5 linked regions of the Homo sapiens genome follow. The protein of the gene in region 4 interacts with the protein of the main gene of each other region in a pairwise test. Each region holds a gene or a part of one and is shown on either strand. Other genes may lie near its edges.

Region 1 (5,551 bases), about 16 Mb from region 4:
GAAAAATAGGAACAGGAACAAAAAGAAGACCAATGACTCAGAGGGACAGAAACACAAACGCAAAAAATTCAGACAAAAGCAGTAATGTTTAAAAGGTTTTTATTAAATTATACAAAAACAGGCAGTTAGAAATTGTGTTTTCTTCCTGCCCCATTGACATTTCTAAGGCCCTAATGCATTTGTTCTGAGGTTTGACAGTTGAAGCCCTTCACCAGTGCTAGGGAAATAAAGCCTCCTCAACCTTAAGGATTTCAGTGATAAGAGTCTGAAAGTCTAGCACTTCAGGTAGACTTTGGATGAACTAAGAGGTTCCACAGTCACCCTGTCATATAACTGTCTGACAGAAATAGGGGATGAGGTCTATAAAATGGAAAGGGTGGTATTTCGTTTTTATTGGTAATGAATGATTTGGAATAGAAGCATACAGAACTGCAAATTTCAAGGACGTTAGTGTACATGGCCTGGCCTTTGAAATACAAGGAGAAAGTTGGGTGCAGAAGAAATAGGAGAAAACTACAATAATTTCTGCCTCATTGAGTCTGTGAAGTAGACCCACTTATGGCACATACGTTCCTGTCTTAGAGGCCTGGAACTAGCAGATCTCGTGGAAAGAGTTCTTTCCCATGGAAATGACAACACAGGCAGGTCATTTGAGTGGAGGCTTAAAATTCCTCAGGATACTGGATCAGGGTAAAAGCTGCTCCTTAGATTCCAGATGAGAATGTGTATGGTGTGTTCAGCATAGGGAACACAGCTTTTCTGGGGAAATGACAGTGCTTCCATTGTGAGCCTTGAAGCTCACTGAACCCAAGACGGATGGCAGGTGGAAGCTCTGCTAAGGAGAGGCCCTTCTTACGCCTCTTTCTGGGGAACCTGAGCATGTTAGTGCCTTTTAGGTAATGTTACTTGTGCAGCCTAACTGAAGGATGAAGTCCTCCAGCTTACCACCCTAGCCCACCCTGGCTTGCCCCGAACTAAAGATTTATGTCACTCATTCAATCTTCTGGGTCTACAAAACCAGGAGAATGGAAGAGAAATACTAAAATGCAGTTGTCTAGCAGCCGTACTCCAATTATTAGTCATTAGACCTGCATGTGAGATTTAGTTACCTCTTCAGTTGTTAATTAACATCACTACTTCGGGGAGTGCAGAGTCAGGGCTTGATTTTCTGCAGGATAAGGGGAACAGATCTGTGCTGGGGGAAGAGCTGAGTTGCAGACAACTCACAAAGGCCACTGTGACTAGTATTCCTTTCTGGCAAACATTTACTTTCTCCAAAGCCATGGGTTTGACTGCCATTGTTTCCTAATGTAGGCAGTCTGAAACCGAGGAGGAAGGGGTCCAGTTGACTGGCAAGTGGGGATAATACATTAGAAAACCAAAGCTCCAAAGTGAGTTAGAAATGCATTAGAGTAGGGAAAAGAAGACATTAAGTAAGGAAGGCCAGAGGCCCAAGAAGCCCAAGTTAAGGTAGAAGATGAATTGTGAACTAAAAGTTTGAGGGGCAGAGAAGCAGATTCATTTGGCCAGAAATAAGTATTGGTATAGAGTGATGATGAGAAAGCAGTGGCTTTCTTAGAATTTGAGTTGGCAGTTCCCAAGGCTGGCTAGTAAGCCACACACGGAGACTAACAGGGCCACACCATCTTCCATTGCCCAGCCAGGAGCCTGGCTGGCAGACCTTAGGTGTCTGATGACATTGGAGTAATAGTGTGACTTCTAACAAATACCTAGGTGGTGTTTAGGGGAGGTTATGGCTTGTTCACTCAGGAAACTAGCTTTTTATTACAAAGGGCTTATGATGATTTTATTGGCTGCCAGAGGAACACAGTAAATAACTCCCAAGTGTCTTGTTGGAAATTAATCATGTGGAAATTATCACTTCTTTGGTGCAATAATGCCTTCCAGTTGGGCCTGAAAAACAAAAACAAGCTCCATTAATACTTGAAACTTGCAGCCTGATACAAATAGCTGAGAGGTGATCAAATCTCTGGGAAGAAGAATCCACATGCTGTCACTCCAAGGGTTCTTTTTCCCCTTGATCCCCAAATCCATATTTTCTAGATTAGCTAGTTTCTAGCTTGGCATACAGTCTTTAGTATATGAGGAGAAGCCAGAGCTGTCCTGGTTTCAACACAATAATGGCTCCGGGTATGATATAAAGCATTGAAAAGGATATTGAATGCATTGTTGTAAGGGCTTTTCATGGCTCAGGTTTCAGGCCAGAATATGTCTGCTAAGTTAAACATTTGGCTCTCTGGCCGGGCGCAGTGGCTCATTCCTGTAATCCCAGCACTTTGGGAGGCTGAGGCGGGCGGATCGTGAGGTCAGGAGATCCAGACCATCCTGGATAACACGGTGAAACCCCGTCTCTACTAAAAATACAAAAATTAGTTGGGCGTGGTGGCAGGCGTCTGTAGTCCCAGCTACTCCAGAGGCTGAGGCAGGAGAATAGCATGAACCTGGGAGGCGGGGCTTGCAGTGAGCCAAGATCGTGCCACTGCACTCCAGCCTGGGTGACAGAGGGAGACTCCGTCTCAAAAAAAAAAAAATATTGGCTCTCTGGTTTAGGATCCTGGGAGTTCTGCTGGGACCAGAGGTTTGGGAAACAGTGAATTTTCAGCCACTGAGACAACTTGGCACACAATTAGAGAAATGCTGCCAGTGAATACAGAGCTGTCCCTCTTTGTTGGGGGGTGGGGGTGGGGAATGGAGTTTTGCTCTTGTCACCCAGGCTGGAGTGTGATGGTGTGATATCGGTTCACTGCAACCTCTACCTCCCGGGTTCAAGTGATTCTCCTGCCTCAGCCTCCTGAGTAGCTTGGATTACAGATGCACATCACCACGCCCAGCTACTTTTTGTATTTTTAGTAGAAATGGGTTTCACCACGTTGGCCAGGCTGGTCTCAAACTCCTGACCTCATGTGATCCACCTGCCTCGGCCTCCCAAAGTGCTGGGATTACAGGTGTGAGCTACCACACCCAGCCGAGAGCTGTCCCTCTTTATGTAAAGCTTAAGACACTTGGGAGTTATTTACTATGTTCCTCTGGTAGCCAATAAAATAATACTGGACAGATCTTTAGGTAGGTCTATCCTGGGGACAGCAAAGCTGCTTTATTTGCAATGCAGTTTTGAGCCAATAAAAATAGCTCACTTCCTGTATTACAAGCCTGTAATTCCAGCACTTTGGGAGGCCAAGGTGGGCAGATCATGTGAGGTCAGGAGTTCATGACCAGCCTGGCCAACATGGTGAAACCCCATCTCTATTCAAAATACAGAAATTTGCCGGGCGTGCTGGCACATGCCTGTAATCCCAGCTACTCAGGAGGCTGAGGCAAGAGAATCACTTCAACCCGGGAGGTAGAGGTTGCAATGAGTTGAGATGGTGCCATTGCACTCCAGCCTGGGCAACAAGAGCAAAACTCCGTCTCAAAAGAAAAAAAATTTAAAAATGCCAACTTCTAAAGAATCTTTCACCCTGGAGATTACAAGATTGCTTTTAAATGTTAGAAACATGCTAAGGTATTTGGTTTGCTCTTGTTGCTAATCCAGGAAGAACTGAGGAACTCAGGCTTATGAAAAAGGAATATGGCAGTTAAGGAAAGCAGCCTCAGAGGCTGCTAAGGAAACAGATTCATCTCTGGCTGTGAAAGTTTCTTGCTTTTCTTTGTGCAACAAGAAAAGTTCCAGTAGTGGTTAACAGAAAGCCTTCTTTATCGCAAATGGCCAGTCCTGCTGGTGTGTAGACCAAACAAGCCTGCAATGTCAAGATTGTAAGGTTTCTATCTGAGCCTAGGGAGGAGAGGGAGATCCATCCAGGGTCCTTTGGCCAGGGCCATGGGAGAAGGCCACTAAATGTCAGTAGGCCATCTTTCCAGAACAGTGATGCTCAAACTTCTGCAAACATTAGAATCACCTGAGACCTTGTTAAAGCACATTGCTGGACCCCAACCCCGAATTTTCTGATTTGGTAGATCTGGGGTGGGCCCAATAATTTGTCTTGCTTTGCCAGGTGAGGACGATGTTGATCTAGGGCCTACCTTTTGAGACCTTTGGACCAAACAGCTGGGAGTTGCAGTGCCTGTAGCATGGCCTCCTGCCCAGCTTTGTCCACCAGCCCCCTCCCTCCTATCACCTCAGCTGGATAAAAGACCACTGCTGGCATCGGACTTCGAGGAAGAGCACCTGTGCCTGGGTTCCCCGACCACATTTCTGGGGAAGGTTTCTGATTTGAAATGGTTCTTCCTCTCAAAGGGCCCTGCTGCCCTTTGACTTCTTCCCTGGTTATGCCCTGAAACAGGGCCTCAGAGGAGACAGCCATGGGATGGCACTACCACGCAAGCCACCTGGAGCCCAGCCCCCTCCAGAAAGGCTCCAACATACCAGCTTCCAGGGGAATGGAGTTCCACTTTTTGCCATATCCACCTCTTCCTTGAGGATGGGCAACTTTTTTCCAGGGAGAAGAATCCTCCACTGGAGAGCCAGGCTGAGGCGCCTCAGAGATTTGGAGTTGAGAGTAGAGACCCCCTCTGGAGCCCTCCCCTTCTCCCACCACCAAAGTCAGCTTCCTTTATCCTTTGGCAGTGCATGTGGACAAACATTTAAAAGCCATGGAAAAGGAACCGAATGCCTGGCCTGTGGGGCTGGGTCGCAGGGCAGGGGGCACCTCCACCCCACCCTGCGCGTTGATTACCTTCAGCTGCTGATTTGTTCGCTTCAGGAACTGAATCTCCTCATTGTGCTTCTTCTCCTCCACCTGCCGCCTCTCGCTCTCCCGCTTCTCAGTGGCTTCACATTTTGCCTTCTGCTCGTTCACTTGCCTCTCCAGGTCTCTCTTTTCCGTCTCCAATTCTGCGATCTGAGGAGAGAATGCCCAGTCATCCTGGGATGTCGCCAGGTGAATGGAATGGTGTGAGCCTGGGTGGAAGGGACATGGGACATGACATTGCCAGGGTATATACTGCCACCCAGTGGGAGGTCAGTGCCTGGCATGGAGCGTCTACAGCGGAAACAACTCTGCCAAGACCACCAGGCTGGCCATCATACTCAACCAGGGGTCCCTCACTGAGGTGATGCAAGTCCAGGTGTCGTGACTGTCAGCAGAGCACCTTAGGAGGTCAGAATGTAGTGCTGGAATGATAAGCATGTGGCCCTGAGGTTTACAGAAGAGATGGGACCAAGGGTCACGGTAAACCCCACTCACTTTCCTCTCCATGTCTGACTTCCCCTGCTCAGCCTGCAGTGCCTTCCTCATGCCAAACGCCACGCTGCTCTCGTACAGGGTCTGGTAGGCAGCGATGGTCATGCGGATCTCGTCCCGGACTCGCAGCAGCAGCAGCCCCCTCTCCGCACAGTTGATGGTGACCTCCCGGATCAACTCATCTTCCAATGCACACACACCATGAGATCAGACAGGGCGTGGGGAGGGGGCTTGCAGTATGTCTACTGCAAACACCCTTCCTCTTGGGAAGGACATTAGGGTGTTCTCGCTTGGAGACAAAGTGCAAGGCCTCAGAGAAGGGCCTCAGGGAGGGTGCCTTCAGTGGCCCA
Region 2 (5,298 bases), on a different chromosome or scaffold from region 4:
TCTGTCAGATATTAAAGTTTCTAACCCTGTTTTTTTAATCTCCAAGAATGGGGAAAGTGGAATGTAGAGATGGAAGCAGAACGTGATGTTTGGATACAACAGCTATTTAATCCTTTTTTATTTTTTAAGCAAAACACTCAGTTTTCTACCTTATTTTCTAATGTTGATTTCATGGTAATACTGACAGTTGGAAGTGTTTAACATAAAAACTCATTGCTAAAGAGCACTGAGGAAATGGGAGCTAGCGCACTTGTAATAAAAATAAAGACAAAATATTTTCTTGAATGCATATATGTGATTGGGTATTTTAAAAACCAGTATCATCTGTCATCTCCAAAAGATTACAGGAGTCAGCTTGTTAATACAGTAGTGTTAGTAGGTTCTGTATTTTTAATTCAGTACTTAGAATTCTAGGTCCTTTATTGCCCAAAGTCAGCACAGTTAGTTTATACCACAGACTCTGTCTTGGGGCACAGTAGTGGGGCGGGGTAGTGACTTTGCCTAAACATCACCCAGCTGGAACAGAGGCTGAGCGGGGCTTTAGGCACTTGCCAGATGGGAACTGGGTTGCACCCTCCTTGCTCCCTGTCATTTTCTTGTCACTCTTCCTGCTTCCCAGTGTTTTATTTTATGCCTTGCTCGTTGTACATCATGATGACTGATGGTCTTCAAGGTTGTGAGGAAAGCCGTCTCCCTGCTTGACTCGACTGCTGTCCCAGAGGAGAGTCCTGTGCGACCTGAGCGGGGGTGGCTGCCATTTCCAGCATGCAGGTGACTTCCAAAGAATGAGTCAGGTGGCACTGAAAGCCATGGGTTCTGAAGAGGCGAATTTGTTGAAAAGTCCCAAGGGTCTGAATGAAAGCATCTTTAATCAACACTCAACACTCGCAATATTCTAGAAAACCATATACTGTGCTGGTTGAGGCCAAAGGTTAACATTGCTCCACTGTTCACCAAGGAAGGGGGCAGTGGCCATCCGCCGCGGCCTCACGTGCGTTGTAACAAGCCCTCATCACATGTGTGAGTCTTACGTGCACAAAAAGAGAAGGCTTTGGTACTGAAACTGGACACCTTGTGTACTCGATACCTTCACAGCTTCTATTGGACATATTTTCTTTTTAGGAATGAAGGAAAATTCTCCCATTTTTGAGCCATTCTTTTGTCAATTCTACAAAATTGCATGTAACTTTATAAATATTTTTAAAAGATATAGTTTTGTAAATATTTAATATTCCGCTAATTTGATTTTGAATTGTAAATGTCAAGTATTCTGTTTTTGGGGTTTTTATGTTTTATTATACTTTGTTAAAAAGGACAAATTGTACATTTTTAGAATGTTTTTATGAGTAAATTTAATGTACTGAAAATAAAAATTTTAAAAAAGGCTGTTTTATTTCACTAGGTCTTTGTCTCAGAATATGAAGCACACACCTTTTCACATCAGTCTGAATCTCCAAACTAGGGGTTCCATCCTTTCTAGCCTCTCACATTTACAGCAGGGATACCTCATTTTAAATCTGTTGATTCTCAATCAAGTTGCCAAGTGTTTTGTGTTTTTTTTTTTTTTCCAGATGGAGTTTCGCTCTTGTTGCCCAGGCTGGAATGTGGTGACACGATCTCAGCTCACGCCAACCTCCCGGGTTCCAGCGATTCTCCTGCCTCAGCCTCCCGAGTAGCTGGGATTACAGGCATGCGCCACCACGCCCGGCTAATTTTGTATTTTTTAGTAAAGACTTGGGCTTCTCCATGTTGGTCAGGCTGGTCCAGAACTTCGGAGCTCAGGTGATCCTCCCGCCTCAGCCTCCCAAAGTGCTGGGATTACAGGCGTGAGCCACCACACCTGGCCAAGTTTTGTATTTTTTTTTTTTTAAGTGTCCCTGCTAATAACAAAGACGTAAATTCCTGATTTGGGGTTAAAGATGTTCCAGCACGAGTTCACGAGTTTCCATGAAAATGAAAGTTGGCATGAATGGATCTCAAGATACCTTGGCAATGTGGCCCTACCCTGAAGTAGCTCTTTCCCAGGGAGGGAGCAGGCCTGCTGCGGAGGTGGGTGACACAGTGACACAAGCCACCAGCTGCCACATCAGCCTGTGACTGACTCGGCATTGTACAGAATCGCTTCCATGGCATCTAAGACCACACCCTTCTGGATTTGGGAGGTGGCAACATACTGAGCATGTGCTCTGGTGATGTCAGGGAAGTGAGTGGGGCTACAGCACCCACGGGGAGCTCCGAAGACGGGACAAGGGACGCAGACGCTTCTATTGAGCAGCTGGCCTGGGAAGGCAGTTTTCTCAGGTCACTCCCTTGTATTTTTCAACAGACTTTTAGGTGCCTACTTAAACGGGAGCTGGGCTCAGAGTTCCCTAGATGATGAGGTTGGCCACTTTTTGTCTGGTCTGAGTGCTGAAGTGTGTGTGTGCTGCATCTGTACACGATGCCAGCAGCTCCCCACTGGGTCCCCCAAGGGTACACTTTCTCGACCACACACACATACCTAATAAATACTTATGGTGGTGGGTGGTTTACAGCAGTAGGTTGTTGGGTGTTATAGTCCCACAAAACATGTAGGTCAATTCGCATCCATCCTGATAGCCCGTGGCACGTGAGTTCTCAAGAGGACTTGGCTTTGTAAAGGCCAGACCTGGTGGCAGGGCCTTGGCCAAGGTGGAGGGTGCCCTTGACAAGGCAGAGGCCCTCGGAGGGCAATGCTCATCCACGTGAGTGCCCCCTCTGCACGAGAGGACCAGCCTGGATGCCCCTCCTTGGAAATACAAGGACCCGCTTGGCTTTGGAAAGTACAAACAGTGTGGGATCCAAGTCTCAAATACGGAATCCCATTAAACTGGGCTTTGATGACAGTTTTTAATTGTGCCTTTATTCAACTTAGTTCATTAAAAATGTTTTAAAGATCCTATAAATAAAGTGACCACTCACATGGGATATAGGTCACCCCTCAGCATGTTATTTTTTTTCTTAAAAAGCAGTATTTCTTACAGGAATCTTACTGATCACACGGTAGTTACAATAATGTCAGATATGATGTATACAGTCTAAACGAGACAGTCCAGTTAAGAATATACATAATGTAAAAATACACATATTAAAAGTTAGCCAAGTGGACAGACGCATGCGGGGGTGGGGGGAGCAGGTGACAGGAACTCCTTTAACAATCAGTAGAGGGCCCAGATGCAAAGAATCTGGTTTTCCCCGTTACAGTAAACAGCTTTCACTAACGTATACAGGTATTTCATACACATCTAAACACACAAGGGTAAGTTGTGACCTGCTACACATAGGGTCTAAAGTGGTGTAATTGTGATTTTCCTGTGATACTCCCAAGAAAACTATAAATAGTGAACCCCATGCAAGTACTGGGAAGCACTAGTCTTTTATCACAGGTTGAACCTGAGGAGGTTTAACTCTTGACATTAGTATCTGTAAAGAGCGTACGGCTCTTTTTGCTATGTTTTCTCCACAACTGACATGCACTTGGTGTGGGAGAATTCTGATGGCTGTCTGACCTAAGAGTGATAACTACTATTCAAAATGTGGGTACCTTTTCAGTAATACTGAGTTACACATTTAACATTAAAAAAACAAAAACGTGGATCATCCACAGCTTTAAGCCGGAAGGCAGAAGGGAGTGTGTCTGAATGTTAATGTTTTCAGTTATACTATTTTGTGTTTCTCCCGCTGTACTCCAGAGTGACACTGGTACACTGCTGCTTTCCGTAACAACACAGGCACTAGTTTGAACTCAGACAAAACCTGAAACAGAAGAAATGCCACTCTTTCTCCAGGGTCTTTTAAGAAACTCGATCAAAATTATAAATTATTCAAGTTTCCTTTTGAGTGGTGTCTTTATGTGTGTAACTATCTAGAGAACAAACCAAACCAGAAATGTCTACCCCTGCAAGAGTGAGGACTTTGGGTGTGGTTCTCTTAGGAGTCAGGGACCTTCAGCAGTTTACAGTCAGGGCCGTTTTCTCACACAGCCCGTTTACCCTGCGTTTGTGCCAACTGTGATGGCAAATGCGTTTTGCGGGGGTTGCGCTTCACAACTCAGGCCTAAAGATCCTCTTAGGGAGATCTCTCTAGCTGAGTAGAAAACTTCTACCCAAAAAGGCGGCGGGTTTTGTGAACCTGAAGAGAAGACTCAGGGTCTCTCTGAAAGCCTTTAAATTACTGCTGGAATTACAAGTTCCTATTAGTGAGAAAAGAGCATTAAAATAACTTGAAGGTCTATTTTATTGGCAACTTAGAATGCAAAGTATTTTATTTTTAAACTTTTAAAATTTGAAAACAAGCTAGCCTACATTAAATAATATAGTTTCCAAAGCTGAATGTGCTCACTTGGAGCTCAGTTTTTCTGCTTGAAACACAAACACAACTTCCTAACACTCCTAGGTGGGAACACTACTGTTTCATGATCTGTGATTGGATGAACTGATCGATCTCAGTTGGTAACATCCCTTTTTTTTCCTTGGTAAGGGTTTAAACAATTCTAGAAGAGCTGCATTTTTTCTGGTTTTACACTGACAATTTCATCCCGAACGTCTCCTGGGAGGCATAGACCATGTACAGGAATCCATCTTCATCTTTCTCACTCTCATACACCTCTGAGATTGGTGTGGAGACGCTGACCATGCTGTGTCCGTTCACCAACAGGAAGAAGGCCTGATTAGCATTGAGCTGTAAGCGCCTTCTATTGAAAGAAAACAACGTGAAGAAATATTGACAACAATACAAGAAGGATGAAGCATGTGTTAAAATATCACCCACTCTGATCGGTAAAATATAAAAATGTTCTAAATGCTCTTGAATCCAATACTTCTCATAAAGCACAGGACACTTCCTTTGATTATATTGACATGAGCTATAATCACTGAAAGATTACATATTAGGCTGATTTTAAACTAGTATACTGTCTGAACAGCTGTTAAACTGTCTAATATAAGAAAGCAGTTCAAATACAGTTTCTGAACTATTCTAAGATCTAAGCCTGTGCCATTTACTGCCACTCACAGAGTCTACATTCTCTTTAACTAGCTTTGCTGTACAATACCTTAATAACTTGTAACACTGATTTTAAACAGGAAACATCTAAACGATGTTATGATGAAAGAAACGGGCTCTGCAGTCTAGCAAGTAATATAAAACCTCAAAAAAAGAAACATTTTATAGTTTAAGTTGAAATTGTTTTAATCATAACTGAATCAGAACTGAATTCAGCTGAAAAATATTTTTTAAAGATTTTAACCAGAACTAAAGATTTAACTGTAAGTTTCATAA
Region 3 (5,859 bases), on a different chromosome or scaffold from region 4:
AAAATTAGCTGGGTGTGGTGGTGGGTGCCTGTAATCTCAACTATTCCGGAGACTGAGGCAGGACAATCGCTTGAACCTGGGAGGCGGAGGGTGCAATGAGCGGAGATCGCGCCATTGCATTCCAGCCTGGGTGAGAGTGAGACTGTCCAAAAAAGAAAAAAAAAGTAGCACCGGCCGGGCATGGTGGCTCACACCTGTAATCCCAGCACTTTGGGAGGCTGAGACAGACGGATCATGAGGTCAGGAGATGGAGACCATCCTGACTAACATGGTGAAACCCCGTATCTACTAAAAATACCAAAAAAATTAGCCAGGCATGGTAGCTGGCACCTGTAATCCCAGCTACTCGGGAGGCTGAGGCAGGAGAGGAGAATGGCGTGAACCCGGGAGGCAGAGCTTGCAGTGAGCCGAGATCGCGCCACTGCACTCCAGCCTGGGCGACAGAGCAAGATTCCATCTCAAAAAAAAAAAAAAAAAAAAAAAAAAAGGTAGCATCTATTCACTCTACCTTACTCCAATTTAAATATTTTTCAGGTTGGCAGAAATATATATAAAAAGCAATCTTATCCAAGGTAAACTTGCCCAGTTTCTACTTCTCATGAAAATTCCAAGTTTACAAAATGGCACAAGGGGATTCTTCAGAACTCTTACAGTTATTTATTTTTATTTTTTGAGACGGAGTCTCACTCTGTCACCAGGCTGGAGTGCAGTGGCGTAATCTCGGCTCACTGCAACCTCCGCCTCCCAGGCTCAAGCGATTCTCCTGCCTCAGCCTCCCAAGTAGCTGGGACTACAGGAGCGTGCCACCAAGCCCAACTATTTTTGTATTTTTAGTAGAGACGGGGTTTCACCATGTTGGCCAGGATGGTCTCAATTTCTTGACCTCGTGATCTGCCTGCCTTGGCCTCGGAAAGTGCTGGGAATACAGGTATGAGCCACAGTGCCTGGCCAATTTTTTTTTTTTTTTTTTTTGAGATAAGAGTCTCGCTCTGTCGCCCAGGTTGGAGTGTAATGGCGCAATCTCCATTCACTGCAACCTCCATCTCCCAGGTTCAAGTGATTCTCCTGCCTCAGCCTCCTGAGCAGCTAGGATTATAGGCATGCGCCAGAAGGCCCAGCTAATTTTTGTATTTTTAGTAGAAACGGGGTTTCACCATGTTGGCCAGGCTGGTCTCAAACTCCTGACCTTGTGATCTGCCCACCTTGGCCTCCCAAAGTGCTGGGATGACAGGCGTGAGCCCCTGTACAAGGCCTGTTATTGAATTGGAAGTACTTTAGGAAACATGGAAGCAACTTGTTTCAATCACTGCAGGTCATTCTGTCAGTACTTCTACCAAGGTAAACCAAATAAACGGTAAAACTTCATTCAGTCACCTCCAACATTTGGAAGCTGTGCTCTGGTGTAATGCAAAGTTCCCCTGGAGAGTCCCGGTGAAATGCAGAGCTCACCAAGTCAACAAGCCCATTAAAAGAGGCAGGCAGGTCAATTCCCCTCAGAAACACCCGTTCCCTGACACAGCCCCACGTCCATCTGCCATGCAAACAACCAACCCTCATTTACTGACTAGTGTCAGGCCCTTTTATCAAGCACCAGGAATATATCCAGGTGAGATATACAACTAACTAAAAAACAAAGGGAGACTATAGTAAGACCTACAATAAACCACTAGGGTCAAAGAAGGAAGATAAAGAAACAATCTAATAACTAATCCTAGGAAGGCCCTCAGAGGGTTTCAGTAAGTAGAGATGGGCAGAGGGCCAAGAGGGAAGGGTGGAAATATGGAACCAGACATAGAATGTTGGGGAGACTGTTTCTGAATGGGCAGAGGTGAGTACCTCATGGGCCAAGTTTGGCTTTATCCTCAAAGCAAGCAGCCACTCAGTAGAATGGAGTAGTAGAGTTCCTCTTATAATGTCTGAACACCAGACTGCACTTTATTCTACACGTGGAGGCTACCACGATCAGAGCAACAGAACACAAACTCACAGAACACCTGAGAAATGGTGCCCTCACCTACTGAAGCGATTGTCTATCCAGCAACACTCAGACCACTGCTGCGCAGCAGGGCAGCCACAGGTCCCATGGAGCTATTTAAACTTCAAATACTAAAAAATGTAAAATTCAGTTCCTCAGGCACACTAGCCACACACTTCAAGTGTGAGCAGCCAGTGGCTACCCTAATGGACAGACAACAAACATTTCCACCATTGCAAAAAATTATATTGGACAGAGCTGGTTAGACAACAGAGAGATCATTAGGTCAGCATAGTTTCTTGTGTGACTTACTTTAAATTAAAAACTACTCTCAGAGGTAAGAAAACTATACTCTTTTAAAAAATATTTTAGAATTTGAACTTTTCTATAGTTTGGCCAGACCTTTTCTCACATAAACATAAGTCACACTGGTAAGATACATTTACTAAATGTGAATGAATGCATGTTTTCTTTAAAAAAAAAAAAAAAAAAAAAAGGATGAAACGTCTACTGCAATGTGAACAGAAGGGGGCACTGTAAGTCACTCTAAAAGCTACCAAAAGACACAATCACAGAACTATACTACATTTTATCTTCCAGGGCGAGCGCTCTGTAGGCAAAATCCTGATGGCTGTGCAAACAATCCCACCCTTACAAGGTTGTGCGGGCTTTTCAGAACCAAAGAAAAAGCCACACTTCCACCTTCGCCAGGGGTTCTCATGATCCCCTCCCAGCCAAAGGCGGCTCAAGGTGTGCTTCCTAACCACAGGGTCTGGTGTGCCCAATGCCCCACCTGCCCCAGCGCTTACCTGTGTGAGTGCGAAGATGGGCCTTAAGGTGGGAACTTTTGAAGTAGGTCTTCCGGCAACCTGGGAAGCTGCATACATAGTTCCTCCTTCGGGAAAAGTCTACCTGAGGGACACAGTTTTGGCTAGAGGTGATGAACACTGGAGCAGGGGCAAGGGGCAACAACTTGGTATTCCCGGCAGCCATGACATTGGCTGCACAGGGGGCAGGCGGAGGGAGGGCTCCCTGGGGCAGGACCAACATCACAGCTCCCTGAGGCACAGCAGGTCCCACGAACACAGGTTGAGGCGCTGGAGCAGCCTGAGCTAGGATGGGTCTCACAGTCCCCACAGACAACTGGGGAGGGGGCTTCAAAAAAGCTGGTAACATGCTACTTTGTCCAGTCACAGGGATCATCTGGCAAAGGACAGGGGGAGCAGGGACAGAGACAGAAATCAGAGGGGTGGTTTTCCTGGGCAGGTCATTTTCATAATTCTTTGGTGAGCAAGTCTGAACTGCACCAGGCCACCCTGCCTGCTGGCCTTTGTCAGTGAGCAGCAGGCCACCAGACTTGTGCAAGCAGGGCTGACAGGACACCAAGTTAGTGCTGAGTAAACTGTCCGTGAGGTGTGTGTCCTGCAAAGTTTCAAAGTGTCCCAGAAGCTGCTCTTCTCCTTCTCTGCTGTCAGAAAGCCGGCAATCTGGAGTCTGGATGGTGGGAAAGCAGGCAGCAGGGCTCTCCCCAGTGTGTCGGATCACGCTAGTCCCCTTGGCCCTGCAGGGAGAGCTGGGCACTGGCTCCAAACCCAGCAAGCCCCTCTCCGCGCCCCCGCTCAGAGCTCTGGCCACTACGGCAGAGGACTGGAGAACATCCGTGGCTGTACATGCTTTGGAATCTGTTACTTGGGGAGAAACAGGTGTCCTTGTCGATGGCTCCACGAGATCAGGGCTCTGAGGAGGAGTTATGCACTAAAAAAAAAAGTACCATGTTAAAAGGTTGCTTTAAATTTTAAAAGGGATTTAATTCATCACAATGCTCCCAATACCTTTACACAGAATCATCTAGACACTCAGTTAACCCTGTTTTCAACATCCCAGTGGGTTTCAAGGCTGCATGAGGCACTCTGCTTTCTCAGCTTATTCCCAACGTGTTTACCTCTCCCAAACCTACACAAGAGCCCAGTGCAGGGAACTCTGAGAGGAGCTCCTGGCCGCCAGGCCCACCACTTCTGCAACCCTCCCGACAACCCACAGGCCCTTCCTATCCCTCTCCAAATCTGCTTTCTACACTCTTCTTTCAGAGCAAGCTTCCAGCCCAGGACAATCACAATTTCCACTTCTGTTAGCAACCTACAGTTCTCAGCTTCTCCAAGCTGAGATGCAATTTTTCCAAGTACTTTCACAGATGTAGCAAATTAAAAAAACAAAAAGCAAGAGTGACTTACTGCACCCAACTCACAGAACTCACATTAAGGAGTCGGCTGCCACGGGAGGGCAGAGGTGCCACCCAACGAAGGCAATCTGATGTCAAAGTACATGCTTTCTCCAGCTGCTACCGATATATTCTGACACTAGGCTGGAGAACCTAAGCTCCACCCCGAGATTCCCCTGGGGAAGTAAATTTCACTTTCTCACATTAATCTGTAGGTTTCATCCCACGGACATTAACCACGTAGCTAGCAAGGTATGATCCATCCATAGAAAGAGCACATTTTTCAGAAATGAAAGAAAAGTTTCTTTTTTTGTTCTTTTATTTTTTTTTGAGATGGGGTCTCGCGCTCTGTTGCCCAGGCTGGAGTGCAGTGGCACGATCTCGGCTCACTGCAACCTCCGCCTCCCGGGTTCAAGCGATTCTCCTACCTCAGACTCCTGAATAGCTGGGACTACAGGCGCCCGCCACCACACCCGGATAAATTTTGTACTTTTAGTAGAGATGAGGTTTCACCATGTTGGTCTGGCTGGTCTCGAACTCCTGACCTTGTGATCTGCCTGCCTGGCCCTCCCAAAGTGCTGGGATTACAGGCTTGAGCCACCATGCCTGGCCAAAGGAAGAGTTTCTACTCCTTCAGACCCACACAGAGAGGATACGCAACTTATTTGCCAGCATCCCAGGGAATCTTCTCACAAGTTCTTCAACACACTGAGTTCAGCTACTCTAGTCATTTCACAAAAACGCTCCTCCCTCCCACCTCCTCTTACCAGAGTCGATAAAGAATGGAAGTCTTTTGGTAGTTCAGGTGTGGCTGCATCCATATGCACAGTGGTGGTGACATCCCCAGAGTCAGAGACAGGCGTGAGGGGTCTTATCCGCAACAGGTCACCTTTCTGGGATCTTTGACCCCAGGAGCTCATACAAACAAGAGCCTCGACAGCTTCCATGTCTGTCTGCTCCAAGATGCTGCAAGTAGACCTTTCGCTGTCATGCCGCTTCCTCTCCAGGATGGACTCACATATGTCCATGATGTCAACCTAAAGGCGACACAACACAACGGCTTCTCAGTGCAGGGGAAATACAGAGGCCACCCATGATGGGCATGTGGATATGCATATCAGAAGCCTACAGTAGGCATGTAATGCACATGCAATAGTCTATAGCAACAAACACCGAGGTGTAGTAAAAGACATTCAAGGAATGCTCATGACAATTCGGCTTTTAAGCCAACATTTCACAGACAGAACTAAGCTGGCAAGCGTTGCCACCAAAAATCCTGACTCTTAAAAAGGGCTACTAAGTTCATATTTTTCTTGGGTAAATGATTAATAAAATTAACTCCTGAGGTTCAAGCCAAAAAGTGGCTGGGAGGAGGAGCAGCTGCCCAGGGAGGAGGAGCCAACACTGAGGCCATCTAGTCGGTCTGCCAGTGGCCGCGGCGCCCTGACCATGGCTCTCTGAGGCGGCAAAGCCGCCAAAGCAGTGTCCCTACAGATGCTCTCAGGGACTCTGGGGCCTTCCGCCTAGGCTTCCAGCACTCCACGCAGGTAGGGCCCATGGCGATTCCACCAGTTCCCTCCACAGATTCGGGAGTGGAAGTCATCTGTTACTGTCCCAAGGCTAGCAGGTGGTGACAAGAAGCCAACCTGCCGCGAACCCGGAGAGG
Region 4 (5,859 bases):
CTCCAGCTCAATGACCTTGGCCCCTCATCCCCAGACCTCCGAGGAAGAACTCTTCAGCACCAATGAGGAAAGTCCCGCTTTCGTGGAGTTCCTTGAATTTCTTGGCCAGAAGGTCAAACTGCAGGACTTTAAGGGGTGAGTATTAGGGTGGGCTGAGCAGAGTGTAATCTGACTTGTGCTCCTGGGCAGGGAGGGAGCCCCTGTCCTGGCCCCATGGAGGCCTGGCCAGGGCTGGAGACTGAGGCGTGGCCTGGGGGGCCCCGGGGCAGGTTCCGAGGAGGCCTGGACGTGACCCACGGGCAGACGGGGACCGAATCTGTGTACTGCAACTTCCGCAACAAGGAGATCATGTTTCACGTGTCCACCAAGCTGCCATACACGGAAGGGGACGCCCAGCAGGTAGCCTGGGCACCCCCACCTGCCTCCTGTCTTCCACCTGTCCTCCCCCTCCACCTGTCTGTTCAGCCTCCATCACGCCAGGCTCAGCGCTGGGCCCTGGGATGGAGATGGAAATGATCAGCGCCCCCACTTGTGGGGTCTCGTTGGGTCAGGGGAGACAGAAAGCCTTGGTTTCTACAGTCAGAATGGCACCCACTTCCTAGGTGAGCATAAATGCGTGGGTGCATAGAGGGACTAGAACAGTGCCTAGTACATTGCAAGAGTTCAGCAGATCTGAGCTGGTGTTTTATGGGGAGTGGAGAGCATCATGGGGTCATGTGGGGACATGTAGTCTTGGCAGAGGTGGGAGTCAGGAAAAGCTTTCAAGAGAAAGTGACTTTTAGTCCGTGAAGGAGCTGGGAGAAGGAAGGGAAATGTTCCAGGTGGCGAGAACAGCTTCTACAAAGGCCTGGACTCGAGGACATGCAAGGCATGTGCCAGGAACTGAACTCAGAAGCGTGTCCCCTTGTCCTGAGCCTCCTACAGGGCTATCTGCCTTCCCAGTCAGGTCCCCAGCCCAGGGGGATAAAAGGAAATGTGAGAAAAATGGAAATAGCTATTCCTTATTTTTAGTGTCTTTTGACTTTCGTTTACTAAGGGTCTGTGTTCATTTTAGCAACATGAATGTATACCAAGTTGAGCTTGTTTATTCAATTGGGGGCCATGTTTGGGGCATTGAGATAGGAGAAGGGCTGAGAGGTAGGGTCTGGGGACCAAGAGACCTGGGCTCGAGTCCCCAAGCTCATTATAGCTCATTATAGCACCTTCCAAGTCACTTCTCTCGGCCTTGATATCATCATCTGCCACAGCATCCCAAGAAAACTAAAATAATTTTTCTTGTAATTTCAATAGATATCCAGGTACAAGTGGGTTTTGGTTACATGGATGAATTGAATAGTGGTGAGGTCTGGGATATTAGTGTACCCTCATCACCTAAAGAGTGTACGTTGTTCCAAACAGGCCATTTTTCAACTAAAATAGTTTTAAGACAAGTTTTTTTGCTACATTATTTTGGGGAAAGCAAATCCTTAGATGTGCCCTCTGACTACCCCAAACCCTCCTAAACCCCCGTGGGCACCCCTCTCCCCCATGGGCCCCCTCTGGCCAGACCACGAAGGCCCGTGGCTTTGTGCTCAGTTGCAGCGGAAGCGGCACATCGGGAACGACATCGTGGCTGTGGTCTTCCAGGATGAGAACACTCCTTTCGTGCCCGACATGATCGCGTCCAACTTCCTGCATGCCTACGTCGTGGTGCAGGCTGAGGGCGGGGGCCCTGATGGCCCCCTCTACAAGGTGGGCGCTCTTGGAGCCTCCCAGGGGCATCAGCAAGGGCCCTGGCTGCAGCTCTGCCCTCCCTGGGATGCCCCTCTGAGCCTCACTTTTTCCAGCTATAATGGGGGGACCATGGAAGGCTTCAATGGTGCACTGTTCACACCACGCCCCCTGTCGTCCCCAAAGCTCACCCCCTCAGAGAGGACAGTTTCCCTCCTCTGCCTCCTGGCCTGGTATCACTGTCCTCCACCTCCCGTAGCCTCCTCTGCCTTCACCATCCCGATGATTCCTAAGGCCCCTACCCATCTCCACCACTAAAATTCAGGGCAAAAGATAGAGGGCAGAAATCTCTGGAAGAAAGATTCATCCAGCCCACAGTCACTGGGTCTCCCCGACCAAGGGGCAGTCCAGGGAGGCACAGTAGGGGTTTCTGGCTGGGTGGGGCAGAGCAGACCCCAGGCTCCACAGGAACAGACAGCTGCCCTCCCTTCCAGGTCTCTGTCACTGCAAGAGATGATGTGCCCTTCTTTGGACCCCCCCTCCCGGACCCCGCTGTGTTCAGGAAGGTGAGGGGCACCCCCCCAGTCATGGGCAGAGCAGGACAAATGGGTGGGGGCCTGGGGGGTGCATACACATTCTGCCTTATGAGGTCCCAAAGTCTCATTGTATGCCAGGGCAGCTGGGCTCCCCTAACTGCAACCGGGGCCTGGCTTTTCCATTCATCTTGAAAACACCTTTTTTTTTTTTTTCACAAGGTCACAGGATAAACTACACGATTGTTTTACACTTTCCATAGTAGACTGGCCTCTCCTCATTTCTGTTCTCTTTCTGACAGTTCCAGTCTCTTTCTTTCTTCTAAAATGTTTGGGGAGGGGCACACTTCAAGCCTGGGCTTCAGCTCTGTACGTAGCGTGTTCTGCTACCCTAGACTGAAGCAGTAGGTTGAGACCCCAACCCAGACCCTAACATCTGTGGAGTTTGCTCTCCCGAAGGCGTGGGCAGCCATGAAGGGCACTGGGGCCCCTTGAAGGTACCTGGGGAGCTGAGCCCAGGGAGATACCCTTTTGGGAGTGAAGAGGGTGACCCCAGGCCCCAGCAGAGCATGGTTCAGGAGCTGCAGCCTCTGCCTCGTTGGGGTTCCGACCCTTGTTTATGTGTCATCTCAACTTCCCTTCCTTATCTCCTCCACACTGGGAGTTTCCAGGGGCCTGAGTTCCAGGAATTTTTGCTGACAAAGCTGATCAATGCTGAATATGCCTGCTACAAGGCAGAGAAGTTTGCCAAACTGGAGGTGAGGATGGGCTGTGAGGGCTGGGTGACCCTCTTCTCACCTTCCAACCTATAACTTCAGCCCTGTCCCTGGGAAGGGAAAAGCCATGTTCAGACCTTGGCCTTAGCGGGGACACCTGGGGCTGGATGGATTGATGGACGAGTAGGAGGTCGGGGAGAGGAAGCCGGAGGGATACTGAGGAGTTCCCAGGAGATGCTGGGAGGCGGTTAGGCTGACAGGGACACCTTGGGACCTGTCAGGTGGGGGGGTGGACCTGGGGGGTGGGGACATGAAGCCAGATCTTGAAGGGGCTTTGAGGGGCCCTTCATATGAGGGTCCCTGGGGGATGCTTGAGCTGTGGAGTGGCCTGGGGGAAGGCGGTGCAGGAGCCCTCCGCCCTCCCCACTCCCCACTCATTCAGAGAAGGTGGCCCGTGCCTCAGAAGGTGGCCAGGATTTGAACTGTGGGCCGAAGGGCTGATCCTTGGGGTCCCTCCTGACGGCCCGGGCCTGGCCCACAGGAGCGGACGCGGGCCGCCCTCCTGGAGACGCTCTATGAGGAACTACACATCCACAGCCAGTCCATGATGGGCTTGGGCGGCGACGAGGACAAGATGGAGAATGGCAGTGGGGGCGGCGGCTTCTTTGAGTCTTTCAAGGTGAAGGGCCCCAGGTCTAACTGGCCGGGGAGCAGGGACGTGGCTAGGGCGGAATCCCGGGCTGAGGCTGATAGACTGATGGACACGGCGTGGGGGTGGAGTCTGGCAGAAGGGGCGTGGCTGAGGGGGTGGAGTCCCGGACTGGGGGATTGACACAGCATGGGGAGTGCAGCTAGAGGCCGTTCGCATTGGAGTCTGAGAGGGGGCGTGGCTGGGGCGAAGTCCCGGACTGGGGCTGATTGACATGGTGTGGAGGTGTGGCTAGAGGCCGCTCGCCTGCGGGTAGAGTCTGGGATGGGACGTGGCTGGGGGTGGAGTCAGGGGCCGGGGCTAATGGACATGGCGTGGGGGTGTGGCTAGAGGAGGCTCTAGTCTGGGATGAGGGCGGGGCTCGAAGTGGACTTGGGCTTTAGAATGGGCTTACACTTGGGGACATAGTCTGCCTTGGGTAGAGTTTGAAGGAGCAGCATGTAAGGTGGGGCCCTGGCTTGGGGAGGAGTAACTGTTGGAGGTGGGGCCTAGGTGGGGAATTCACCTGGGAATTCTGCTGAAGGGTGGAGGATTCTGGGAGACAGCAAGGGCTGCTGGTACAAAGGCTGCTAGGTCAGCAGGAAGAGAAGAGAGGAAGAGGCTCTGTCTTGACTGAGGGAAAGAAATAGAGTTCTCAGAAGAGGTGTGTGAACCATGATCATTGGAGAGGGACTTGGCCTGTGTGACCTACCCTGCCTGTCCCTGGTTTAGCTTAGCATTAAGAGCACGGACACTTCAAATTTCAGCTCTGTTACTTACCAGCTTGGGCATTCTGTGAGCATCAGTTTCTTTATCTGTTGAGTAGGGTAATGGCAACTTGCCTCATACAGTTATTGTTATCTGTAAAAGAGTTAGGTTAGTGCAATACAAGTTTAAAAGCAAAATGCAAAACCTTGCCTGTCTGCCTCAGCAAATGTTGTCTGAAATGAGAAGTGTGGGGAGTGGAGTAGTTCCTGGACAGGGTCTGGACTCACTCAGGCCACAGGGCCCCAGGTGGTAGCCTTTTTGCCACCGTCTCCTCCACCCACAGGAGGATAACTGCCCATCCTCCAGCTTCCCGGCCGGCTGGTCACACCTCACCCTCAACCCAGGACAGGTCACACAGCTGGAGCTATGGGTTGGAATAAGGGAATTAGCCCGGCTGCCCAGGCCTGCCCAGGAACTGAGGTGAACAGATCGTCTTTGAGAAAGAGGCTTGGGGACTGGAGACAGGACAGGTGGGGTCAATATGGATCTGGGGTGTCTCCTTTGAGGAGGGCTCCGATGGTCCCACATCTGGTAGGTGCTGGACGGTGGACCTAGATTAGGTCAAAGAATTTCTCAGAAGCAGCGGAGTCCAGAGTTGAGGGCATGGGTCCTGGCATGCCGGGCTCACCCCTGCCTCAGTTGGCATGAAATGGGCATGATTGCTAGTCCCCATCTTGCAGGGGGATCCAGTGATAGAGTGATTGTAAAGCGCTGGTCCCATAGCAAGCATTTGGTGTAGATTGGTCTGAAAAAAACAAGGAAAGAGGGTGGGAGGGAAGAAAAGAAAGAAGGCAGGAGAGCTCTAAGAGGCCCTAACAGGAATGAAACTGAGGTGTCAAGAGGGCTCTCTGTGCACACTTTTGGCCATGACCCAGTGTCTTCTGCAGTCCTTACGCAGCCACATGAGGACACTCAGCACAGAGCAGCCTGTGTGTCCCAGAGAGTGAGAGAACTGAAGTGGTGTCCCCAAGGCCACCCGGCAAGTTGGTGGCAGAGCCAATACCTGAGCTACCCTTAGGCCCCGTATGTACCTGCTTCTCATGTGACGCACAGGGAAATTGAGGCCTGGCCCCACCTCCCTCTGTTGCCCTGCTGGCCACATGCCCAGGGGAAGGGATTTCCAGGGCTTACCCAGAGTGGCATTGCTGGGGAGAGACCAGATGCCTGGGCTCCTGGGTTTCCCCAAGGGGACGGCCCTTAGGAATCCTGTGCCTCCTCCACTGCCACCCCCTTCACAGCGGGTCATCCGGAGCCGCAGCCAGTCCATGGATGCCATGGGGCTGAGCAACAAGAAGCCCAACACCGTGTCCACCAGCCACAGCGGGAGCTTCGCGCCCAACAACCCCGACCTGGCCAAGGCGGCTGGAATAGTGAGTGCCCTCCCCCTCCCCAGGCCCCGGCCCCTCCCTGGGGGGCCCTCAGCTCTCCTCTGCCTCCTGAGGCC
Region 5 (5,859 bases), on a different chromosome or scaffold from region 4:
AGAAATTGATGGGCTCACCGTTCTGGAGGCTGGTGAGCCCCAGATTGAGGGTGGCGTCTGGCAAAGACCTTCTTGCCATGTCATGGCAAGAAGGCATGGTGGAAGGCAGGACGGCACAGACCGGAGGGGGCTGGATTCGCCCTTTAGTCAGGAACCCACTCCCCTGCTGATGGCATTCACTCATCCACGAGGGCAGCGACTCAGATCCTCTCTCTAGGCCCCAGCCCCAGCCCCAGCAGTGCTGGATTGGGGACCAGGTTCCCAACACATGACCCTTGGGGGGTGCATCAAAGACACAGCACTGTGTGGAGTGACGTCTGTGCTGCTTCTTCCTCCCTTGTCACGGTCACACCTCCCTCACTCACCTGTGGGACAGCCTCACTGGGCGTGGCCGTGGTGTGTGCCGTGAGGTGTGGAGGGTGCCGTCTCCCGGCTTGAGCGCTGAGTTTGTCCCCGTGGCTCACCTTGTTTCTGTCAGGTTGGTTTCAGCGTTGCTGGGGCAAGGCTGAGGGTAAACATGAGCGACTCCAAGGCCAGGGAGCCCTGTGCCAAGGTGTGGACCTTTTGGGTTCTCAGCTGAAGTAGAGAATCCAGGGAGGACCCCGCACTCCGGCCATTGGAGCTGTGGCGTCCTCCCTCCTGTGTGTCCCCCGGAACCTCCTGAGCCTCTCTGGAGCTGTTCTCTGCCAGGCCCCGTGGGCTCTCCTGCCCTCTGCATGCATCGCGAGTACTGCCGGAGGAGGCCCCTTTGGCTTTCAGAGCCCAGAGCGCCCGACCTCCTCCAGGAGTCTGCAGATCCACAGGCCTCAGATGCTGCCACACCCACCCAGCACACACCCAGGTCTCTGACACGCCAGCCGCACACAGCGGTGGGGTTCAGGCGAAGGTTTCTTCCACAGTGCAGAGTAGAAGAGCCGGGAAGGACCCCATCACCATCAGATGCATCAGAGCTTCAAAGGCCCGCCCATCAAGACGCTGCCAAGAGCATGAGGCCAGCCAGGCTGGGGAGGACGTTGGCGAGCATCCGCCTGCCCGTCAGGGAGCCACAGCTGGATGATACATCGACAGACAGCAGAGGGACGGTGTAGCACACAGGCGAGGGCTTGTCCTCCTCAGCCTGGGGGAGCGCAGCTCAGTGCTTGGTGGTCAGCACGTGACTGACACTTTGCCGGAGAAGGGGACGGCTGCCCGCAGGAAGAGCTACACAGCCGTGTTCGCCGGAACTCCGCTCTGGAGAGTCAGAACTGGAGACGGGAGGGCGTGCCTCAAGGGCAGATGGGCAAACCAAACCCCATCCTCCCTGTGAGCCGCGGCACAGCACCAGGCGGGCACACGCAGCACGACACGGCGAGGAGCCCACCGCAGGGGCAGCCTTTTGGGCGGGGAAGGGGGGATGAATCCACTGTGAATCCCACCTCCGAAGGGCAGCGCAGGAAGGACACGCAAATGCTGGACTGAACCTGCAGCTGATTCAGGGGGCAGTGTCCTGAGCTCTAAAACTTCAAACCTGGGGCAGTGTCCTGAGCTCTAAAACTTCGAAATCTGACCAGGCACAGTGGCTCACGCCTGTAATCCCAACACTTTGGGAGGCTGATGTGGGCGGATCACCTGACGTCAGGAGTTCGAGACCAGCCTGGACAACATGGAGAAAGCCCATCTCTAGTAAAAATACAAAAATTAGCCAGGTTGATGGTGCCTGCCTGTAATTCCAGCTACTCAGGAGGCTGAGGCAGGAGAATCGCTTGAACCCAGGAGGCAGAGGTTCCAGTGAGCCGTGATCGCGCCAGTGCACTCCAGCCTGGGCAACAGAACGAGACTCTGCTCCAAAAAGAAAAAAACTTTGAAATCCCTCTAAAAATAAAATGGACCGGTGGATGGTAGCTGTGAGGATGGACCGTGTGGCAGGTTTAGTTCTGGGGCCTCGGCAATGAGTGTTGGGTGTTTGGGGCACGGCTCCTGTTGTTTTACGAGGAGAATTTCCTAATAACGTGTTACACTGGGGAGAACGTAGGAGGGGAGCCCATTTGTTCTGAAAACGCGGGGACCAGCCCTGGTCCCCGGCTCAGGACTGGAGGGGTTGCCCTGGTCCCTGGCTCAGGACTGGAGAGACCAGCCCTGGTCCCGGGCTCAGGGCTGCAGGGAGGCACCTGGTCTTCCCTCGTCCTCACGATCCTGCACCCTCAAGATGCCACGTTGTTGAGGCTGTTTAGGGAACTTGACAAGCTGATTGGAAACTGTGCTGAAATAGAGCCCAGGTAGTGATGCGGACAGGGCAGTGCCAGAAGGAGCCCCAGCGATTCCTGTGCTGCAAGGCACGCCCAGGACGGGGCACTAGCCGGGGGAAGAGGCTCTCAGGGCCCAGGTGGGACCCCAGCCTCAGACTATGAGGTCATGACTGTGTACAGCTCAGCCACCGGGCTTTGGGACTTTGAATCCACCTTAGCAGGGTTTCCAAACCCATTGTCTCCACGGCCACCCTGCCAGTCCAGCTGCAGCAGGGCGGAACAAAGTGGAGGCCTCTTTCTTGCTTTCTTTTTTTTTTTTTTTGAGACAGAGTTTCTCTCTTGTTGCCCAGGCTGGAGTGCAATGGCACCATCTCAGCTCACCACAACCTTCACCTCCCGGGTTCAGGCAATTCTCCTGCCTCAGCCTCCCTGGTAGCTGGGATTACAGGCATGCATCACCATGCCAGGCTAATTTTGTATTTTTAGTAGAGATGGGGTTTCTCCATGTTTGTCAGGCTGGTCTCGAACTCCCGACCTCAGGTGATCCGCCTGCGTCAGCCTCCCAAAGTGCTGGGATTACAGGCATAAGCCACCGTGCCCGGCCACAGAGGCCTCATTCTGCAGCGTATGCTACTCGGGCAAAGGCAGCTGACTGCAGACCCAACACGGTGACCCAGCTGGATGGTGCCTGAGAGACGGGGCTGCCCCACATGGTGCCCTGTCATGCCGCGGGACAGGTCGCCCAGCAGATGGTAGCTATGGCCCCAGTGCCATCCTGGGCTGGAGACACATGGGTGCCAGACACGTTCATGCCTGTCGTCTGGCCCAGCTGCCGTGGGGAGCCCTCCAGGGCCGTGTGCCTGCAGGGACCGGCCTGTTCACCTCTAGGCTCACCCCTCGGGTGCTGAGTCACCACAGTGGGTGGGGCCGTGCCCCCTCCCAGGCCGGCTTCCACAGCTGCCCCTGCAGAGCGCCTCTGTGTTAAGGGCTGGCCGCCTCCTTCCTCAGGGGGTGTAACATGTAAAAAGCTGCACCCTGGCCTGTACAGGGGCTCCCGCCTGTTATCCCAGCCCTGTGGGAGGCTGAGGCAGGCAGATCGCTTGAGCTCAGGAGTTCAAGATCAGCCCGGGCAACTTGGAGAAACCCCGTCTCTACTAAAAATACAAAAATTAGTTGGGTGTGGTGGTGCGCACCTGTAGTCCCAGCTACTTGGGAGGCTGAGATGGGAGGATGGCTTGAGCCTGGGAGACAAAGGCTGCAGTGAACTGCGATCTCGCCACTACACTCCAGACTGGGCAACAGAGCGACACCGTCTCAAAAAAAAAAAAAAAAAAAAGGTTCTGGGCCTCGTACCTTCTGCGCTTTCATGAGACTCAGCCCTGGAAGTCCTATGTGGCTGGTGGCCCCAGGGAACAGGACCTGGGCTCCTCTCTTCTAACCCATGTGGGCCACAGGTCCCTGTCCATCTGTGCTGGGGCTCACCTGGGGGCCGAGGGCCTCGGGCATGTGGGAGATTTGTCTTTGAGAAAGGGGTGGAGGAGTGTGGAGCCCTTGGGGCTGCCTGCAGGCCGTGAGAGACCTCCCCAGTGCCGCTTCTGTCCTGGGCTAGGGAGGTGGGGGGGCGGGGGAGGAGGAGTGGCAGACACTGAGGCGGTGACCACACGGGCAGGGTGCAGGTGTCGGGATGACTTGGCAGGCCATGGTGCAGTGCTCTGGCAGGCTGGGCCCAGGCCCTGCTGCTGGGCAGTGGTGTCATTTGGAGGGTGGTCCTTCAGGGACCCCCTCCTGCCTCCTGCCTCGGGGGTGGGCTGGGGAGGTCGGGGCTAGGTGGGCCCTGCGCTGGCGGTGCTGATGGTCTCTGTCCCCGCAGGAAAGAATCTCTATACAAATGAATACGTGGCTATCAAATTGGTGAGTCGGCCCCTCCACCCCACCCCCGCTGACGTGCCCCCCAGGGATTTCAGGGCAGCGACCCGGTCCCCTGGTGACTCGCTCTTGTGCCCCCAGGAGCCGATCAAGTCCCGGGCCCCGCAGCTGCACCTGGAGTACCGGTTCTACAAGCAGCTCAGCGCCACAGGTACCGGGCGGCCCGCGGGTGGGGCGGGGGCTGCGCAGGGGCAGGGAGGGGGCTGCCGCCGCACGCCCGTGCGTCTGTCCTCCGCCGCAGAGGGCGTCCCTCAGGTCTACTACTTCGGTCCGTGCGGGAAGTACAACGCCATGGTGCTGGAGCTGCTGGGGCCCAGCCTGGAGGACCTGTTCGACCTGTGCGACCGGACCTTCACGCTCAAGACGGTGCTGATGATCGCCATCCAGCTGGTGCGCGGCGGGCGGGGCGGGGCGGGGCTCGGAGGGAAGAGGGTGGCCCTGGAGGGGAGCGCGTGGGACGGGGAGGGGCCCGGCCGACACCGCCGTGCCCCCCTGCAGATCACGCGCATGGAGTATGTGCACACCAAGAGCCTAATCTACCGGGACGTGAAGCCCGAGAACTTCCTGGTGGGCCGCCCGGGGACCAAGCGGCAGCATGCCATCCACATCATCGACTTCGGGCTGGCCAAGGAGTACATCGACCCCGAGACCAAGAAGCACATCCCGTACCGCGAGCACAAGAGCCTGACGGGCACGGCGCGCTACATGAGCATCAACACGCACCTGGGCAAGGGTGAGCTGCGCGCGCGCGGCGGGGGGCGGGCGCCCGGACCCCGCTGAGGCTGCGCCCCTGTCCCCGCAGAGCAGAGCCGCCGCGACGACCTGGAGGCGCTGGGCCACATGTTCATGTACTTCCTGCGCGGCAGCCTCCCCTGGCAGGGGCTCAAGGTGGGCGAGGAGGCCGGGCAGGCGGGCGGGGACGCAGGGCGGGAGCAAGGCTGACCACAGACCCCCGCAGGCCGACACGCTCAAGGAGCGGTACCAGAAGATCGGGGACACCAAACGCGCCACGCCCATCGAGGTGCTCTGCGAGAACTTCCCAGGTAAGGGGTCCCTGCGCCCCCGCCCTGTGCCCCCCACCCCCCACCCCCCACCCCCACCCCCGCCGAGGCCCCGCTGGCGCTCTCTCTGCAGAGGAGATGGCCACGTACCTGCGCTATGTGCGGCGCCTGGACTTCTTCGAGAAGCCCGACTATGACTACCTGCGGAAGCTCTTCACCGACCTCTTCGACCGCAGTGGCTTCGTGTTCGACTATGAGTACGACTGGGCCGGGAAGCCCCTGGTAGGTGGGGGGGTGCCGGTATGTGGGAGCGGGGGACCGGGAAACTGCCCTGAGGGAGATGGGAACCGGCGCTGCAGCCCATCCTGACCCCTGCTCCCTCACCCACAGCCGACCCCCATCGGCACCGTCCACACCGACCTGCCCTCCCAGCCTCAGCTCCGGGACAAAACCCAGCCGCACAGCAAAAACCAGGTGAGGCCCGGGCGGGACCGACCGCCCCAGGGAGGGGCATGGGCGGCCAGCGTGACCCCCTACTGCCCCCACCAGGCGTTGAACTCCACCAACGGGGAGCTGAATGCGGACGACCCCACGGCCGGCCACTCCAACGCCCCGATCACAGCGCCTGCAGAGGTGGAGGTGGCCGATGAAACCAAGTAAGGCTCTGGGGCGGTGCCTTCGGGGAGGTGGGGGTGCCCTGGGTCCCC

The links.
Region 1: the proteins of RAP1GAP (region 4) and DNALI1 interact in binary tests that used the Homo sapiens proteins (3 or more experiments, as listed by UniProt).
Region 2: the proteins of RAP1GAP (region 4) and MAP1LC3B interact in a two-hybrid assay, tested with the Homo sapiens proteins (one large-scale study listed by BioGRID and IntAct).
Region 3: the proteins of RAP1GAP (region 4) and KLF11 interact in binary tests that used the Homo sapiens proteins (3 or more experiments, as listed by UniProt).
Region 5: the proteins of RAP1GAP (region 4) and CSNK1G2 interact in a two-hybrid assay, tested with the Homo sapiens proteins (one large-scale study listed by BioGRID and IntAct).

Annotation. Positions count from the first base shown.
Region 1 is NC_000001.11:37,561,389-37,566,939, reverse strand, and holds the end of DNALI1 (axonemal dynein light intermediate polypeptide 1), read right to left. Parts: intron 5,384-5,551; coding exon 5,205-5,383; intron 4,860-5,204; coding exon 4,695-4,859; intron 1,915-4,694; coding exon 1,879-1,914; 3' UTR 86-1,878; downstream 1-85. Other genes in the region: GNL2 (nucleolar GTP-binding protein 2), read left to right, coding at 1-85. UniProt on the Homo sapiens protein: Involved in sperm flagellum assembly.
Region 2 is NC_000016.10:87,402,336-87,407,633, reverse strand, and holds the end of MAP1LC3B (microtubule-associated protein 1 light chain 3 beta), read right to left. Parts: intron 4,712-5,298; coding exon 4,537-4,711; 3' UTR 2,860-4,536; downstream 1-2,859.
Region 3 is NC_000002.12:10,045,521-10,051,379, reverse strand, and holds part of KLF11 (Krueppel-like factor 11), read right to left. Parts: intron 5,231-5,859; coding exon 4,961-5,230; intron 3,731-4,960; coding exon 2,785-3,730; intron 1-2,784. UniProt on the Homo sapiens protein: Transcription factor. Activates the epsilon- and gamma-globin gene promoters and, to a much lower degree, the beta-globin gene and represses promoters containing SP1-like binding inhibiting cell growth.
Region 4 is NC_000001.11:21,605,992-21,611,850, reverse strand, and holds part of RAP1GAP (rap1 GTPase-activating protein 1), read left to right. Parts: intron 1-34; coding exon 35-135; intron 136-269; coding exon 270-399; intron 400-1,575; coding exon 1,576-1,731; intron 1,732-2,204; coding exon 2,205-2,276; intron 2,277-2,545; exon of another isoform or gene 2,546-2,740; intron 2,741-2,914; coding exon 2,915-3,001; intron 3,002-3,500; coding exon 3,501-3,638; intron 3,639-5,653; coding exon 5,654-5,785; intron 5,786-5,859. UniProt on the Homo sapiens protein: GTPase activator for the nuclear Ras-related regulatory protein RAP-1A (KREV-1), converting it to the putatively inactive GDP-bound state.
Region 5 is NC_000019.10:1,974,210-1,980,068, forward strand, and holds part of CSNK1G2 (casein kinase I), read left to right. Parts: intron 1-899; exon of another isoform or gene 900-1,862; coding exon of another isoform or gene 1,863-1,905; intron 1,906-4,095; coding exon 4,096-4,136; intron 4,137-4,232; coding exon 4,233-4,302; coding exon of another isoform or gene 4,303-4,392; coding exon 4,393-4,541; intron 4,542-4,649; coding exon 4,650-4,884; intron 4,885-4,953; coding exon 4,954-5,039; intron 5,040-5,109; coding exon 5,110-5,194; intron 5,195-5,285; coding exon 5,286-5,434; intron 5,435-5,542; coding exon 5,543-5,626; coding exon of another isoform or gene 5,627-5,701; coding exon 5,702-5,808; intron 5,809-5,859. UniProt on the Homo sapiens protein: Serine/threonine-protein kinase. Casein kinases are operationally defined by their preferential utilization of acidic proteins such as caseins as substrates. It can phosphorylate a large number of proteins. Participates in Wnt signaling.